4 linked regions of the Homo sapiens genome follow. The protein of the gene in region 3 interacts with the protein of the main gene of each other region in a pairwise test. Each region holds a gene or a part of one and is shown on either strand. Other genes may lie near its edges.

Region 1 (4,487 bases), on a different chromosome or scaffold from region 3:
GATCTGCCTGCCTTGGCCTCCCAAAGTGCTGGGATTACAGGTGTGAGATACTGCGCCTGGCCGACATTCCTTATTATGAAGACCTGCATCCCTTCTTTCCCACTCCCTTCAACAAGTCCTATTCCCCTGCCATAAAACTAAACTAAAGGTAAAAACAAAGCATGGATAGCTAAACTCTATGAGCAATCTACTTTGCCAAACGTTTTTACCTACTCTCTAACAAAAACTTAGAAGCAAATTATTAATAAGGAGCAAAAACAGTGTTTTATTTCTTCTCTTAGCTTTGGATAATTTTCTGGTACTCATAAAAGTAGTAAGAGGAAAAATTAGCACAAAAAAAAAGCCAGGGTGATGATGAAGCACAGACCCTGAGCTGGTTATATGCATTTTAAAAAATTCATTCCTAAATTAAAATCAAAGGTAATTAAATTCAGGTTACATTAACTATTCTGAGTTGAATGTGTTGATAATGGGACTTTAAAATCCTGTACCCTACTTCAATTTATTTTTAAATTTTGTTTTTGTTTTTGTTTTTTGAGACAGAGTCTCACTCTGTCGCCCAGGCTAGAGTGCAGTCATTCCACCTCAGCTGACTGCAACGTCCGCCTCCCAGGTTCAAGCGATTCTCATGCCTCAGCCTCCCAAGTAGCTGGGATTACAGGTGTGCACCACCACGCCTGGCTAATTTTTGTATTTTCAGAAAAGACGGGGCTTCACCATGTTGGCCAGGCTGGTCTGGAACTCCTGACCTCAGGTGATCTGCCCACCTCAGCCTCCCAAAGTGCTGGGATTACAAGCATGAGCCACCATGCCTGGCCTAATTTTAAATCTGAATTTAAGTTCTCTCTCCCAACTATACAAGATGGTAATATTGAGAATGAGCAGGCACGTTCTCATGAACTAATGAGAAAGTAAAGCAGTGATATGTTTAGTTCCTCAATACTCCCATGTCATTCCATTATGTTCAACTTATATTTAGTGAGTGCCTACTAGGTGTCAGGCACTGTCATCTCTTTATTAAACATTAACTCTCTGGCCATGCATTTAATAGAGAATTTGACCTACTCCAGTCCTTGAAAGGGTCACCTTATAAAACTCATGATACCCCATCAACTCTGCTATACCCAACCATACATGACTGGATTGTGGTTGGCAGATGACAAGGCTGGGCCAATCTGATACTCTTTACCAGGAACCGGGAATGGGATCCTGGGAGCCTGCATCAGATAACATGAAGCACTTGAACTACCGGGTCAGGCGGTGCGTGAGCCACAGAAGATGTCAGAGTAAACAAAAGTTGAAGACTCGGGGGAGGCCATTCTGCTCTAGGAGAAATAGGGGAGAGGGTGGGGGTTGGGTATCACAGTCCATGTACATACAACCTACCTGTATTTCATTTCTTACCTATTCTTGAATGTCTAACACCTATGAAGTTGCCTACTTTGTCCTTTCAATATACCTCTCTTTTACTTGTGACTTGTATGAGTGGTGTTCCTATTCCTTATGGGCAAAAACACTTTAGCATTCTATTAAGTCCTGCAACAGACAAAAAGATGAGAAATACTTAGTCCTCCTGCCCTAAAAGACCATATGGTTAGGACCAGGTAAGTATATAAATAACCATATATAAGGCAGACTATAAGTGGCATAAAAAGTACTATGAGGTTTCAAAAATAGAGGATCATATCATATCCAATTCAGAACATCAAAACAGTTTCACCAATGGCGAGGCATGGTGACTCACACCTGTAATCCCAGCCTTTGGGAGGTCGAGGCGGGTAGATCACTTTAGGCCAGAAGTTTGAGACCAGCCTGGCCAACATGGTGAAACCCCGTCTCTACTAAAAATACAAAAAATAGCTGGGCACGGTGGTGCACACCTGTACTCTCAGCTACGCAGAAGGCTGAGGCATGAGAATTGCTCGAACCTGGGAGGCAGAGGTTGCAGTGATCCAAGATCATGCCACTACACTCCAGTCTGGGCAACAGAGTGAGACTGTCTCGGGAGGAAAGAGAACTAAATAGTAATCATAACAGACAGTAGTCTGAGATTTTTAAAATGTATTTACTAAGAAAAATAAAATATTAAAATCCTAGGTCAGTCTACCAAAAACAAGTTTTTAAAAATTTTTCTGGTCCTTAAAGTCCAAAAATCTGGAATCTAGTAATGACTGAGTCATAGGACTTCGCAACTGACTGGTTGTAAGAGATGAGAGTAACAGAGGAGTTAAAAACAACTGCAGTTTTCAGCCTAGATGAAGTTGAGAATGCTGGTACTGAAACAGAAAAGTTCCCAACAGGTGGATTTGGGGGTGAGGAGTGAAGGCAAGTTCTATACTGGATAAACTGACTTGAGGTAAGTAGCAGGATATAGTTCATTAATACACTGGGGGAAAAGCAGAAAGAGAAGCCATCTCAAGTAGAGAAAACAGATTTTTCAAAAATTCCAAGTAAAAAATTGTCCTCTAAAAAAGGAACCAAAAGACTCTTCACAATGTTTCAGTTTTTTCTTCCGCGTTTTGAACATTCCATTTTTGCACAGCTACTGATTTTCCTGCCATCTGTCTCTCTATATTGTTTTTTCCTGGTTACAGATGAGCGACTTTTAAGAATGGAAGTTAGAGGCTATAATCTCAGTCTATAATCTCAACATTTTGGGAGGCTGAGGTGGGCAAATCATTGAACCCAGAAGTTCAAGGCCAGCCTGGGCAATATGGCAAAACCCCATCTCTACAAAAAATTAGCCAACGGTGGTGGCATTAGCCTGTAGTCCAAGCTACTCAGGAGGCCGAGATGGGAGGATCGTTTGAGCCTGGGAGGCAGAGGTTGCAGTGATGTTGCAGAGGTTGCATTGAGATTGCACCACTGCACTCCAGCCTGGGCGACAGAGTAAGACTCAACAAAAAAAAAAAAGAAAAAGAATGGAAGTTAATGGAAGGACCTGATGAAACACACACAAACACACACACACACACACACACACACACACACACACGCACGCACGCACTCCTTTCCCCAGGAGAAAGTATGCTGTAGAAGAAACCAGGGAAGGAAGAGAGACAGGATAGGAAAAAAGGAAGTATCTGCAGAGGCCTAACAACTCCCTTTTCCTTCCCAAGCTAGAGGATGCAGAAGCTCAGCACCACGGGGGAGGAACAGCATAGTGCTTCAGGTTTTACTAACCATCTCTAAAAGATCTCTAGACTACGAATCAATTTTATTAGAGACAACTGCCTAAAAACTAAAAGACTTTTTTGTAATAATGCATATAAGTTTAGTATGCTAAAAATTATTTTTTAAAGAAACGTAGTAGCAGCGCTTATTAGAACCTTACATGCCCTGTGAAATCTAGTATTAAGCACCCTACTCTATGGCCATCAGTGTACTACAGGAATAGCGTAGTCAGGGAAAATTACATTATTTTAATTCCTGAAAAGGGCCGTATTTTCAGACTGCAAAAGTGATTAATGCTTCTACATGTGGCTTGTCAATTATCCCAGCACCATTTGTGGAACAGGGTGTCCTTTCGCCACTTCACATTTTTGTTTCTTTGTCGAAGATTAGTTGACTGGAAGTTATTTGGCTTTATTTCTGGGCTCTCTATTCTGTTCCATTAGTCTATATGCCTGTTTTTACACCAGTACCATGATGTTTTGGTGATTATGGCCTTACAGTATAGTTCGAAGTCAGGTAATCTAATGCCTCTAGGTTTGTTCTTTTTGCTTAGTCTTGCTTTGGCTATACGGGCTCTTTTTTGGGTCCACATGAATTTTAGGATTGTTTTTTCTAGTTCTGTGAAGAATGATGGTGGTACTTTAATGGGAATTGCATTGAATTTGTAGATATGCTTTTGGCAGTATGGTCATTTTCACAATATTGATTCTACCCATCCATGAGCATGGGACGTGTTTCCATTTGTTTGTATCATCTATGATTTCTGTCAGCCGTGTTTTGTAGTTTTCCTTGTAGAGGTGTTTCACCTTCTTGGTCAAGTATATTCCTAAGTATTGTTTGTTTGTTTGTTTTTTGTTTGCAGCTACTGTAAAAGGTTGAGTTCTTGATTTGATTCTCAGCTTGGTTGCTGTTGGTGTATAGGGCTACTGACTTAAATCTAAGACCCAAAACCATAAAAATTCTAGAAGATAACATTGGAAAAACCCTTCTAGCCATTGGCTTAGGCAAAGACTTCACAACCAAGAACCCAAAAGCAAATGCAAAGACAAAAATAAAAATAAATAAATGGGACTCAACTAAACTAAAAAGCTTCTGAGCAACAAAAGAAATCAGCAGAGTACAGACAACCCAGAGTGGGAGAAAATCTTCACAATCTATACATCTGACAAAGGACTAATATCCAGAATCTACAAGGAAATCAAATCAGCACGAAAAAAACAATCCCATCAAAAAGTGGGCTAAGGACTTGAATAGACAATTCTCACAAGATATACAAATGGCCAGCAAACTTACGAAAACATGCTCAACATCAC
Region 2 (4,487 bases), on a different chromosome or scaffold from region 3:
ACCGTGCAGTCCCTCCTAGAGCTGTCCTAAGTACCTGGTACTGCAGCGGAGCCACACAGTCCACCTGGCACTGGGTTCACTCCCTAGCTCCCCAGGCAGACTCTGGGCCATGTCTGCAGTGCTCAACAAGCGGCAGCAGGCATTGGGACATGGTGGCAGGCCTTGCCAAGGCCCCTGCCCACCTTCAGCCCCCTACGCCAGAGACCACCCTGAGGGGAAAGGCCTGAGCCCTCCTCACAAATGCCATCAGGCGCCTGCAATCACTGAGCTTCTGACTGTCCCAGGCCTGCTTTCCAGGATGAGGGGAGGGGATCTGGGGAGATGGGGAGTGACAGCTAGTTGGGTATGAAGTTTATTTTTGAGGGTGGTGATTATGTTCTGGAATTAGATAGCAGTGATGGTTGCACAATCTTGTGGACATACAAATGTGCAGGCCCTGGGAAGGCTGGGGCGCTGTGGCTGGGGCAGCAATCCCCTCTATTGCTTTAGCCCCTGGGCACTACAGGGGCCGGGCCCAGTATCTTCACTGGGGTGTGTACCGGGATATATACCAGCACCACTCCCTCCCCATTGGGCTGTGCATGGCAAAGGGGCAGCCAGGATCTGCATACCAACACTCCTCCACCTGCCAATGAGGACATGGGGAAAGGTCCCAGGAAAGCCTCACAGCGATGCCTGAACACTTAAGGCCCATCCCCCTGGGGCTCAAAGCACCCACTGGGGCAGGGAGGGCAGCAGTGGCTACCTGACTGTCTTCCCCACTGGCTCCTCCAGAGCAGGAGGAAGAACCAGGAGCCAGTCACAGCCAGGATGGGGGGAACTGCAGGAGCAGAGGCCAAGGATGCGAAGTCATGGGTCCCCATGCAGTCCCGAGCCAGGCGAGCTCAGACTCAGCAGGGAAGCTACCCAGGGCATGGGGGACCTGAGGTCTAGGGTGAAAGCTTCCCCATCTTGTGTGACTTCGGGACTCCTGCCCACTTGAGGCATCAGTTTCCCTATCTGGCCACTGAGAGTGAAGAGGGGGTCTGGCCTTTTGCCCACTCTTAGTAGGTGATGTGGGCCGCTTCGTGACCCTGCCCAGGGACGAGGGTGCAAACTTGCTTTGCATCTGATTTTCCTAGCAGCAGCTAGACCTGGTAGACATGAGGTAGGCAGCACAGAGCCAGTCACACTAGGAGCCAGGATATCTGCTCCCTGCCCCAGCCAGGGAGGGCCCACTTCCCTGTCCCCTTCAAGTTTCATTTTCCCCTCCTAAGGCCTCTTAAATGTTAAGAGAACATTCTCTATCCCAAGCAGGGGTCACTGAAAAAAGAGTTCCACTTGACAGGTAAGCAAATCAAGGTCATGGAGCCCCTATCCCTAGACTCAGGCTGGTCTCTTTGTCTTTCCAGCAGCTGTGACTCAGGCGGGAAGTAGTGAGTGGCAGGACAAGGGTGTGGTGCTGGCAGCCAGGCAGGAAGCAGGGGGAACAACGGGACAGAGGCAGGGGCACAGCCCAGGAGCAGCTCCAGCAGAGAAGGGGGACAGGAGCAGAGGTGGGTGGAGCCCCAGGATGGCATCTGGGTGGAATGGGTGGGGTGAAGAGCTCTCGGGCAGCCCACAGGCTAAGTGCCCTGGCAGCTGTGGGGTAGTAGCTTCACTCTCCCCATCTCTGGCTGGGTCCTCTTTCCATCAGGACCTGAGGGATGCCCCCTACCAGATAAGCTGGCAAGAGGCTTATCTGTGAGTTTTGCACACACCCAGCTCCCCTCGCACCTGCCTCTCAGAGGGGTGGCTGAGTCCAGATTTTTTTTTTGAAACACAGTCTCGCTCTGTTGCTCAGGCTGGAGTGCAATAGCATGATCTTGGCTCACTGCAACCTTTGCCTCCCGGTTCAACCTCTGCCTCCCGGTTCAAGCAATTCTCCTGCCTCAGCCTCCCCAGTAGCTGGGACTACAGGCATGTGCCACCACGCCCGGCTAATTTTTGTATTTTTAGTAGAGACAGGGTTTCACCATGTTGGCCAGGCTGGTCTCGAACTCCTGACCTCAAGTGATCCACCTGCTTTGGCCTCCCAAAGTGCTGGGATTACAGGCGTGAGCCACCGCGTCCAGCCTGAGTCCAGATTTCTGCAAAGATGCTGGGTAGGGGAACTGAGGCAATAGAAGGTGGCATGAATCAGCCCCTCCTGCCCGCAGAGGGCCCCACCAAGTGCTCTGTCCCCAGCTGGGTAAGACCAGAGAGGCCTGCAGAGGTTCCCTGGGGTGGCCTTGGCATTCCCACTGAGTCACACCTCTTCCCACCAAGGAAGAAACCTCTGCAGCCTTTGCCCTGTGGCGCAGTTAGGGCCCACAGCAGGTAGGCAGTAATCATAGTGATGTGCTGGGTGGTGGCAGCTGCTCTGCACTAGAACATCTGCTTCCACTTTGGGAGTGCTGAGCCCCAGAGGAGGGAACCGATGAGAGAAGGGAGACAGTACCACTCCACCTGCGTGAACAAGACCAGCAGGGCCCCTGCAGCAGGAGAGACAGGCCCACAGGTCTTGTCACTTGATGCTTAGTCCAGGCCCCAGCATTCAAGTCACAGCATCTGTTCATCTTGGACCCTCTAACTCCTTAATAGGCTTTGATCTGCTGGGAGGCTGGGACTTGCTACTATCCTTTCTGGCTTCAGTTTCCCCTGGGCAGAGCTGTCAAGCCTCAAGCAGCCAGCCAGCCTGCCTCCCATTTTCAGATCCTCTCCCAGAAGGAGGTCCAGACTTGCCACAGCCCTGATGTCCACTCTGATCCTTCCTGAGATCCTCAAGAGCTTCAGCTCCTTTCCTGCCCTTTCTCTGGCACCTCATCTGTGAAATGGGACAACGCTGTCTCCTTCTGAGAGATGGGTAAGGATTAAATGCAAAGCTCTTCTCACAGTGTGGGGCACATGTGAGCATTCAGGTAAAAGTTATCACTATTTATCTACCCTTTGAAAGAGTACAGATTTCCCCAAACCTCTCATTTCCTGCAACCTGCAGAGAAGACTGCTGTGGTCATCTCATTTGAAGGAAAGCTTCTGAAGATTTTCAGATAAAGAGCAGATGAAGAGCAATGGACAGCGGCTAACAGGCTGATTCAGAGCTGTGGTGGTTCCCTGCTGGGACTCAGCATAACCTGGGACAGGAGTCAGAGCTACTGGCTCCTCTGTTGGCTTTCCGCTGTGTCGTCACTTCCCTTCAGTATAACCCGGCACTCCTACACAGCTGGGGCCTCCTTCCTGCCCAGGAGCCTCACTGCTGACATTGCTCACTGGCTGCACACACCCAGAAAGCCAGGCACACCTCCCTGGAGAGAACCCCCATACTGGTGGGCTCCGTGGGAACACGTGGGGCCAGGAAGAGCAGCCAGCTGACGTGGCAGGCCCGAGGGCAGAGATTCTCAGAAGCAGCAGCGGCTGGGACCACAGGGTAGACTTGGGCAGCGGCCCAGCTCAAACCCACAACACCAGGCCCGCCCACACTGCCACAACTCCCCAGCCTATCCCAGTGGGATATGGTGGGGCAGGTGGGGGTAGCCCTGAGCCCACCACAAAGGCAGCCCGGACACCACCTCCTTCTCTTATCCCAGGAAGGTGCCACATCTCCAGCTCAGCCTGTGGTTCTCAGATCCCGTGCACCCCCACGTCCCCTGCAGTCCTAGGGACCCATGCCCCGCCACCACCAGGGGGCGCCCGGCAGCCGGAGACACTGTGGAAGGAAGTGGGGGCTGGGCAGCACTGGGGAGCGTTTTGTTTCAGAAAAGCAGCCTCAGCCAGGGGCGACTGGGGAAGGTGTCCCACCCACCAGCCCGTCCCTGGGAAGCCCCCAGCCTGCAGAGACTCGGCACACACAGAAACCATGGCAACGGGAGGGAGGGGCAGAGACCCCGCCAGACAAAGGCCCTCTGAGCCCCGCCCCTGGCGTCTCTTCCTTCCTCCAGGTGCTGCTCCCCGGCCCCCCTCATTCCCTCCGAGAAGGCTCAGCACGGGTCCGGCACTGGGAGGCAGGGACTCGAGGTCTTGAAAGGGACCGGCAACACTCCCACCCATGTGTGTGGCATGGCCCTATAACGGATGCCTGAACAGACCAACAGACTCCACACCTCCCTCCCGCCAGTCTCTGGCACTCGGCTGCCTCCAGCGGCTTCCAGGGGTTCACAGTGCCCAAAGGGGAGCACTACCAAGCAGGGCCTGGCTTCCTACTGCCAAGTCAGAGATCTCTGTGTTAGGGAAACTGAGGCCTCAGGTCCTGCCCACACATGGGAAAGTCTTTCTGGGGCAAGGTGTGTCTCCCTCAGTGGGGCCCTTTCCACTGCACAGAGGGAAACTCAGGCACCGGGTGAGGAAGGCTGGCCTGATATAAAGGAGGCCCCAGACCTGTTCATCGCTGGCGCCTCAGGCCCCAGGTACCGCCTGTGCAGGAGCCAGGAGGTGCTGGACAAGACGCGGATCACGCGGAGCTGGGCCATTTGGCACCGTCTCCCTGGAGGCCT
Region 3 (4,104 bases):
ATGCAATATCACTGGTGTCCTTGTAAGATAGTTATATGTCTGCCTGGTTCTGTGTAGGTGGTTGGGGGGGTGGGGAAATGGGTATATGAAGACTGGGACACAGAGGGAGAATGCCATGTGACCACGGAGGCAGGGAGTGAAGAGCTGCAGTGACAAGCCAAGGACATCAAGGACGGCAGGCCACTGCCAAAAGCCAGGGAGGGGCAAGGAGGGCTCCTGAGACCTGGTTTTCAGAGGGAGCACAGCTCTGCCAACACCTTCATTTCAGGCTGTGGCCTCTGGAACGTTGGCTCAATAAATTTGTTAAAAAAAAATTTTAAAGGCTCAGCATGGTGGCTCATGCCTGTAATCCCAGCACTTTGGGAGGCCCAGGCAGGAGGATCACATGAACCCAGGAGTTTGAGACTAGCCTGGGCAAAATAGTGAGACCTCATCTCTATATAAAAATATATAACAAAAGTCAACTTATGTGTTTTAAGCCATCTGGTCTATGACACTTTGTTCTGGCAGGCCTAGGAAAGGGATACACGTACTGAGGAGGGGGACACTTCATTGGCATAGAGGGAGAGAGTGTGAACTTGGCCTTTTGTGGAACAGAGGAGGCTCGGGCAGAGGTGGTGATAGTGCAGCCCATTCATTCTGAGATGAAACTTCCACTGGTTTCCGTAAAGGCGTCTTGGGGAGGGAAGGGAAGGGGATGGGGACCTCCCAGTGGTATCCCCTGCTTGGGCACTGAGGGAAAGCCACAGTGGCTCGGGGGAAAAGGCAGGGACGTCCTCTCCCCGCCTGCCTCTGTCCCCAGGGAGTCTCGCCTCCTGTTCCCACCTGGGGCTAGGGTGATAGAGGAGAGGAGATAGCTCAACCTGGCATTTAGGTGGTGTGGGAACAGGAGACCCCAGACTTTCTTGTTTTGGGGTCTGGGGCAGGCAACCAGGCTCCAGGGACAGTGAGTTGAAGGAAGGGTGGCTGGGAGACCCCTTGACTTGCTGCCAAGGAGACAGAGCTGGAGCTAGGGTGGCCGGTGGTGTCTGAGGCAGGTGCAGAGAGGGAGGGAGGGAAGGGGCCTTTGACTCCAACCTCCTTTTTCTGTACCGACTGCAGGTGGCAGCTGCCCTTTCAGGAGCCAGTGGGGGAACCTGGGTGGCTGGGTGGGGACACCTGCAAGTCCTCCCTAAGCCAGCTACCACCCTACACTGTTGGCCTCCCTTCTCCAACTGTGGGGATGCTGCTCAGGCCTTTTGTGACATCACACCTGAGAGTCCCTGGGGTCCAGTCATTGCTGCTGGGCACAGCGAGGTCCAAGCTCAGGTCGCCCTGCCCCCTACCCACCATGCCAGATCCAGCATCGTTGTGGGCAAACAATTATCTGGATGATCTTTATGGGGCTTAAGCTTGGGTGGGAGCAGATGGGGCATGAGCTGGGGATTTGGGGATGGGGGGAATCCACACCCCCACGTCCTGGACGTTTAAAAGGCCCTCTCTGGCACTGGGCCGGGGCAGAGGCCAGCAGAAAAGTGACTGGAGTCCAGGGACATGATGGATCAGGAGGAGAAGACGGAGGAAGGCTCAGGCCCCTGTGCCGAGGTGAGAGGGCCCTGCCCCCACCCCACCCCCAGCTCAAGGTCTCAGAGCCCATGATTGACAAGACTAGTTTGTAGGGCACCTAATTAACGAGTGAGTCTCCTAGGACCCCCTGACCCAGTTGTGGCTGTAGAAAGGGGCTGGTGGGCTTGGGGGTCTGAGTGCCAGGCCCCAGGGCAGAGGGCAGGGCTCTCCGTGTGGACCCCTATTGATGGGAGATGCTGGGACCTGGGGGTAGCTCCTGGGCCATGTTTCCCTGATTCGTGTCCCAGCTCCCAGGCCACACTCATCAGGCCCCAATCTAGGACGGCGGGACACGCATCGGAGCCTGTCCCTTGAAGCGGTACCACGTGAAGTGGCACTGCTGGCCAGGGCCCCTGGGGCGGGGGCCGGGATTGGGAAGGAGACTCATGTCTCATTCAGAACAGCTCTGCAGAGAGGATCGGCGGGGACCATGGTGAGAGCTGAGGAAGTGGGGACGGCAGGCCCCGGGGTCAGGGTGTGAGCAAGCTGGCTAGGAAGTTTGGGGAGGGGCCCCCAAGCTGAAGGGCCAACCAGACTGAGCGAGTCTGTCCCCAGGCGGGCTCCCCAGACCAGGAGGGCTTCTTCAATCTGCTGAGCCACGTGCAGGGCGACCGGATGGAGGGACAGCGCTGTTCACTGCAAGCCGGGCCGGGCCAGACCACCAAGAGCCGTGAGCATGGGCACGGGGGTGCTGTCCATGGGGCGTGAACGGGGTGGGAGTGCAGGGCAAGTGGTCATCTGGAGGGCCTGGGGGCACGGGATGTGGGAGGTGGTTGTGCACCCTGAAGCATCTGTGTGGGGGTGAAGGGGTAGGGTTGGGGGCCCCCACTCCGGCTGTGTCCTCCCAAGTCTGTGAACGTCCACGCAGAGAGCGACCCCACCCCCGAGATGGACAGCCTCATGGACATGCTGGCCAGTACCCAGGGCCGCCGCATGGATGACCAACGTGTGACAGTCAGCAGCCTGCCCGGCTTCCAGCCCGTGGGGTCCAAGGTAGGTGATGTTCTGGCGATGTCGAGGAGAAACCCGCCAGGCAGTGCTCTCCGATCCTGCCCTCCACCCCAGCCAGGAGGGAACAGGGCCTGCCCCATCTCTGTCCATCCGCTGCCCTGACTTCAGATGGGAGGACCAAGGCCCAGGCAGTGGCTAGAGGGGCCCAAGGTTATACAGGGGCCATGCTAGTGTAAGACCCATGGCTGGAACTTGTGGCTCCTGCCCCCAAGTCTGAAGGTTCTGGGGAGGCCAAAGGGAGAAAATAGGACCCCTTCCTAGGAAAGTATCCCAGGGAGGAAGTCACGTAAGCTCACACATAGGATATATACATCTGTATACTCACATCTGTTGACTTCACACATACACGAAGCTTGGGTTCTGATCAAGATCCCAGCGAGGGCCCCAAGACCTGCCACCTCACACTCAAATGCCACCCTAAATGGCAGATATTGAGGGTAAACATAGACCAGTGCTCACAATGAGGTGGGACACGGTGGCTACCTGCACCCTCTCTCCATTGTTCGCCACCTGTGGCCGGCACTGCCCTTGAGCCCTCCCCCTGGCTGACCCCTCTTCATCCACAGGACGGAGCACAGAAACGAGCTGGGACCCTCAGTCCCCAACCCCTGCTCACCCCTCAGGACCCGACCGCTCTCGGCTTCCGTCGGAACAGCAGCCCCCAGCCCCCGACACAAGCCCCCTGAGGGCCTGAGGCATCCTGGGTCTCACTCGGCCCCCAAAAACTGATAAAAGAATAAAACACTTAAATGAATAACAAGGAACTGAGTATATGTATATTTCATCAGGGGAGGGGCTAGGACTCCCACTTGGAGGCCTCAGGAGTTCTGCTGGGCGTCGCGAAGGAGCTTCTCCTCCCGCCGCTTCCGTAACCTCTCTTTGAATTCCTCTATCTCTTGAAGCTAGGGGTGGAGAAGCGGGTGGGACAGGAAGGGGGGAGGGGCACACACCTCAGAGCCGGGACCACCCCCCCCCGCCCACCTCTCCCACCACCCTGCCCCAGACCACGGCTTCAGGGTTCAGTGTCTTCACTGGAAGCCCCCTGCCAATTACAAAGGGGTCCGCGTGGGATCCGCTTCACTCTTCCAGGAGAAGGCAATAAGGAAACCATCTACTCCTCTGCTCTCGGTTCCTTACTCATGGCTGAGAGTAAAATGTTTCTTTTTGAGACAAAGTCTCACTCTATTGCCCAGGCTGGAGTGCAGTGGCGTGATCTTGGGCTCACTGCAACCTCCACCTCCTGGGTTCAAGTGATTCTTCTCCCTCAGCCTCCCAAGCAGCTGGAATTATAGGCGCCTGCCACCATGCCTGGCTAAGTTTTGTATTTCTGTAGACATGGGGTTTCGCCATGTTGGCCAGGCTGGTTTTGAACTCCTGACCTCAAGTGATCTACCCACCTCAGCCTCCCATGCCCTGGGATTACAAGCATGAGCCACTGCGCCTGGCCTAAAATTTTCATCTAAAACCCATCCCGGATACAAGAATCCA
Region 4 (5,076 bases), on a different chromosome or scaffold from region 3:
AAATTCCAAAGGAGGATGCAAGCATTGCGGCAATAAAGATTTCCATGCTGAACAGTGAGTTTGTCTGGAATCACAGGGGGATGAGTGAGAGTCAGCTCACTGGGCCCTGCCTCATCTGCTGCTGGTGCTCCTGAGGGGACCCTTAGGGAAGCCCAGGGCCCCTGCGGATGGGAACCTCCCTCCACCAAAGTCTGACCCTGAAGCATGCAGGCCGTTCAGCCGAGGGTGTCCCTGTACTCCTGGGTGGCCAGCTGCTTAGTGTGAATGGTCTCTCTGCATTGCAGGGCCATCGGCCACTCGCCAAAAAGAGAGCTGGTGCATTTGGGTTTTGCTGAGACTCGGAATGCTGGAAGATTCTGCCTGAGCCCAGCAGGCTCTTGGCTTTGCTATCCCTTCCCAATGCCCTTGGCTGTCAGTTCTCTGGAAAGTGGCAGAGAGGAAGGAGCCACAGTGCTGCGTGCCGCCACCAAGGGGAAAGCTCTTCAACCAGGTTCAGAGCCAAGTCGCTGAGAGTTGCTTCTCATCCTTAGCACATTTCCTACCAGGGGCAGGATGAGTTAATTTTCGGGATGGGGATCTAACTGGCTGGCGGTTTAAAGGGCCCTTCTATTTAGCAGCCATGAGGGCTGCTAGAGTTCCTATCTCCCATTGAAGAAGGGGCTTCTTCAAGCAGACAGACCAAACATCATTTCAAAATGAGGACTGCATTTGAAATCTACTGAAGGGGGTGATACCGGGGGCCTGAAGCCTGGGGTTTGAGCTCACTTCTAGGGTGACCAATTCTTCTGTTTGCCTGGGACTGTGGGGTTTCCTACGACAGGATTTTCAGTGCTAAAACTGGAAAAGTCCTGGGCAAATGGAGATGAGCTGCTCACTCTAGTTTGACCCCATTCTTTCTGTGTTCTCACCAACTTTCAGTCTTTCATTTTGCAGATTGAGAGAATCAAGGTACTAATAAAACCTGCTGTCCCCATCTCCCAAACCCGTGGGACTCAAAAGAGCTGACGTCAGTATCCCATGGCACCTTAAGCCTCCCCATCAGGGCACATCCCACTGCTGACACACCTCTGCAGGCCTCTTCTTCCTCTCAGTTTGAGCTTTCTTGGGTGAGACCCCTTTATTCATCTCAGAGCATTCCTGGGCTTGGCTAAGAGCAGAAACTCGGGAAAGCTGTGCTTATAAAGCAAAGCACAAAGCATTCCCACCTGTTGGTTGGTGTCCTTCTTTTCTGTCCTGCCCTGGTTAGCCCCATGGGAAGGTCCTCTACAGGCTCCGACAGACAGGCGTGCCCCTGAGGGCGGCTGTCAGGAGGAAAACAGGGCAGCACGGGCAGGAGGCTTGGTCACTGCTTTGTTCTGAACGAGGCCGGGACAAGGAACCAGACAAAAGGTGGACAGGTATAGTGAGCAACCAGGGAGGGCCTGGTGGGGAGGTGAGGAAGCAGCAGGTCCCCACCCTGGGGAAGAGAAGGGCTTTAGCTGGAATCTTAACAAATAGGCCAATCTCATCCTCCAGCCTCTGGGACTCCAGCACGGACTCCCTTGGCTGCCTGCCTCCCTGACTCTCTCAGAGGCTGCCCATCCCTTGCAGCTCCTTGCGGGGCTGCCTTCCTGGGGGGTCAGCCAGATCTCAGCATGCTGAGTTGTCTGTCCCCTTGGCCTGGACATGGCCCAGCTCCGCAGGGTGATATCTGGTGGGCAGTCTGCCCCAAACCTCAGCCCTCCATCTCCCCCTCACCCCTTGATTCTCCCATCCCAGCCGCAGGCCTGCTTCTCTGCCTCTAGGCTCCTGGACACATAGGGTCTTGGCTTTGGGTGGCCACCCAGGGTCCCAGCTTCAGTCTTAGCTCTCAGAGCCTTAACCTCAGCTGAACTTCCCTGGTAAGCGAGCCCTGTGGCTCTAGGACCACTTGGGGCTGGCCAAAGCATGGTGGGGAGGAGGATGACTCAATGGCAGCCTGATTCAGGAAAGCCCCTCACCAGCCCTCGCCAGTCTGCACCCAGAGGATCCATTTCACGTGTCCTCCAAATCCTGGCTGATCCTGTTTCATTCTCTTGCTGGACACCCTTTCTGGGGCCCAGGAGTGCTGGGACACAGACATGGTCCCCATCACCAGAGAATCCTAGAACTCTCAGTGGAAGAAACCCCAAAGGTAACTGGTCCAGTCTCCTGCATTTGGATGGACTAGACAGAAATTCATGCTCAGAGCACCTAGGCACAGAGAGGGTGAGTAACTTCCCCAGGGTCACACAGTAAAGGAATGATCAGCTGCTCCTGAGCCACCTACCTGAACTCTCCTTTCTCCGCCTGGATGATTTCTTCTCTGTCTCATTGGCAGTGCTCCCAAGCACCCCGTAGTCATCGCCTGGGCCTCCTGTGGTGTCCACCAGGCCCAGGCTGCTGGTCCCCATTTCCTTGGAACCCCCTGCCGGGCCTGAGTTGGGCCTGCGCCGGGCGTCTGAGACAGGGAAGTGCCAGTTGGGGGACTGTGGGAAAGCGGGGTGCTGCTCAGTGAAGATGTGCTCCTCCTGGGGCAGGCTGTGTGGGGTGGCTGCCAGGCAGGAGGCTGAGAAGTCAGGGTACGCTGCCGTCGCTGTCGCCAGGAAGTCTGGTTTCTGGTGGAAGGAGAACGGGGTGGGCGGGTAGTGGGGTAGCCCTGAGGCCCCATTGCCTTCCGAGTGGGGGTTTCGAAGGCAGCCCCAGACAGGGGCTGGGGGCTGGAGGCTCCTCATGCAGCTGCTGGCCGCGGGATCCATCTGCTGTCCGCTGCACGCCTCGGTCCTTTCAAAGATTTGATTCTTTATACTTTTTATGTTCAAATTTTTAAAAATGCAAAAGAAAAAAAACTAAATAGGAGGGAAAAATGTTCAACAGAAAATTTACCCCAGGAACCAAAAAAAAAAAAAAACCCAAAACTAAAGTCTCTCCTTAAAGTACACACACATGTGGCCAGCTACTCCTATGTGTGTGCACACACCTATGTCGGGCTTGCTCCTGCCCCTCCAATGCACCAGCCTACCTACTGGGATCCCCTGTATGTGTATTTGTCGCCAATGACACTAAACATTTTCACTGTCCCAACCCAGACGCACCAGCTGACGAGGAGTTCGTCCTGGAGCCCAGAGCAAATGCCTGCAGAGGGCTGGACCAGGGCTGCTGGGACACACTTTTAAATCCTGCGGTGGGGAGAGAGTGACAAATTTCTGAAGTGAAATGTGAGAGAGGAGAGGGAGGGGTTAACCCACACACACAAGATCCCCTCCAACCAAAACCCTAGCAGGCAACTATTAATCATCAGAAACCTTATATGCACATCTAATGGGATTTGCAGATGGAGACTTTTAAAGAAACATTGTCTGTATTTTTTTTTTAAGGAAAGAGAGCAGCACACACACACATACACACACACCGTCTTTAATGTGCCTCCTGTAACACTATGAAGTTATTTTTATTGCACTGTTAACAAAATTCCCCAAGTCTTGGATTTAGAAAAAGCCTTAAGTCAGATCCAGAATCCATCAAATGCCAAATTCCAGGGAGTGAAGTGAGGAATAAGAGCAAGAGACAAGCTTGGTGATTGCATTTGATTTAAAGGCCCTTCTACTGCTGCCTGCGAAAAAGGAAGGTGGATTAAAAGAAATCTTTTTTGCAAGTCTCAGCGGCCCACTGTGGTCTGCAGTACAAAGAAAGGCACACTCTAGAAAAAAAGAATTTCTCTCTGCCCAGAGTGACATTCTCACTTTCTCAGTAACTTAAAAAAACAATCAGATTCTTCCTTCCGCTCTTTAACCTCCAACATACATGCCAATTAGCCACACTCTTCTCTAGAGAGGTTTCAAGTCATTTTTCTTCACAGCAATGGCAAGGCTCTTAAATAAGGTCCTTGAAGTTTCTTCGGGTCTCCTCCCACCTGCTCCCTGCCCCCTTCACCTCCACCCACCTGCTTCCCTTTCTCATCCCCCAGAGGCGGAGGCTTCCGAGGAATTTGGGGTAGGGAAATAGGAATCAGGGGCTCCTCATTCCCCAAAGGAGCCTCTTTGGCAAGCAGGCACGTGGGTCTCCGGGCTGGTGCACATCACAGGGCAGCCAGCCCAAGTGCCATCTTGATGCCCAGTCTTCCTCATGGCTGCGCCCTGCTGGTCTCTCAGAGGGTTAATGCAATTTCTTGGAGGACGACATTCCTAACACCCAGGGGCCAGAACTCCTTCCCCACTGGTTATTCCCATGGCCCAGAGCAGCAGGATGGGGGCAGAAACAGGCATGGACCTTAACAGCAGCGTCTCTGCTGGCTGCTTCCAAAGACGGCGAGGGTTCCCTGAGGAGGGGCCCCTAGGTCTTAGCTCTGCAGCCTGGAGGTGGGGCCCTGGGGGGTGGGTGCAGGAGATGCTCCTAGGAGGAGCCGAAGGGCACCCAGGGATGTGGAATGAAGCCACGACTGGCCTTTAATCCAGAAACTCCAGTCAGATACACATCCTGGGAGCAGGAGCAGCTGTAAAAGATGGGGAGGGGTGTACATATGAAAAGATGTGCCCTCTTCTGGAACAAGCGGTCAGAGTGTTGTAGACCAGTAGAGTGGATGGGGTCATAGCTGTCAACCAGACTCATCTTTCTGCTTTGCCCAGGGCTTAGCTGTGGCACACACAATTCTCTGAGCCTCACAACTTTCCTAGGATGGGTAAGTAAGAATTATGTCTCCATTTTGCAGATGACAAAACCGAGGCTCAGATGGATGACTGGGCTGCCCAGACTCACACAGCTAAGAAATGGTGGAATCAGCACTTGGCCTCAGGTGTCCTGCTGTTCAGTTTGGAGCAGGCCAGATGCAGAGGAGGAGGCATGGGGTTTGAGGTTAGACGGGTCTGAGTTCAAGCCCCAGGTCTGCCACTTCCTGGCTGTGTGCCCTGGAACAAGTCACCTTATCTCTCTGAACTTCTTTTTTTTTTTTTTCTTTTTGAGATGGAGTCTCGTTCTGTCGCCCAGGCTGGAGTGCAGTGGCATGATCTCAGCTCACTGCAAGCTCCGCCTCCCGGGCTCACGCCATTCTCTTGCCTCAGCCTCCCGAGTAGCTGGGACTAC

The links.
Region 1: the proteins of PCP2 (region 3) and GNAI3 interact in binary tests that used the Homo sapiens proteins (3 or more experiments, as listed by UniProt).
Region 2: the proteins of PCP2 (region 3) and GNAI2 interact in binary tests that used the Homo sapiens proteins (3 or more experiments, as listed by UniProt).
Region 4: the proteins of PCP2 (region 3) and MEOX1 interact in binary tests that used the Homo sapiens proteins (3 or more experiments, as listed by UniProt).

Annotation. Positions count from the first base shown.
Region 1 is NC_000001.11:109,554,472-109,558,958, reverse strand, and holds part of GNAI3 (guanine nucleotide-binding protein G(i) subunit alpha-3), read right to left. Parts: intron 1-4,487. UniProt on the Homo sapiens protein: Heterotrimeric guanine nucleotide-binding proteins (G proteins) function as transducers downstream of G protein-coupled receptors (GPCRs) in numerous signaling cascades.
Region 2 is NC_000003.12:50,245,561-50,250,047, reverse strand, and holds part of GNAI2 (guanine nucleotide-binding protein G(i) subunit alpha-2), read right to left. Parts: intron 3,139-4,487; exon of another isoform or gene 2,980-3,138; coding exon of another isoform or gene 2,973-2,979; intron 1-2,972. UniProt on the Homo sapiens protein: Guanine nucleotide-binding proteins (G proteins) are involved as modulators or transducers in various transmembrane signaling systems.
Region 3 is NC_000019.10:7,630,887-7,634,990, reverse strand, and holds PCP2 (Purkinje cell protein 2 homolog), read left to right. Parts: upstream 1-1,271; 5' UTR 1,272-1,370; coding exon of another isoform or gene 1,371-1,533; coding exon 1,534-1,584; intron 1,585-1,853; coding exon of another isoform or gene 1,854-2,038; intron 2,039-2,160; coding exon 2,161-2,275; intron 2,276-2,473; coding exon 2,474-2,598; intron 2,599-3,034; exon of another isoform or gene 3,035-3,182; coding exon 3,183-3,302; 3' UTR 3,303-3,376; downstream 3,377-4,104. Other genes in the region: protein PET100 homolog, mitochondrial, read right to left, coding at 3,435-3,518. UniProt on the Homo sapiens protein: May function as a cell-type specific modulator for G protein-mediated cell signaling.
Region 4 is NC_000017.11:43,658,779-43,663,854, forward strand, and holds the start of MEOX1 (homeobox protein MOX-1), read right to left. Parts: upstream 3,145-5,076; 5' UTR 2,757-3,144; coding exon 2,288-2,756; intron 1-2,287. UniProt on the Homo sapiens protein: Mesodermal transcription factor that plays a key role in somitogenesis and is specifically required for sclerotome development. Required for maintenance of the sclerotome polarity and formation of the cranio-cervical joints.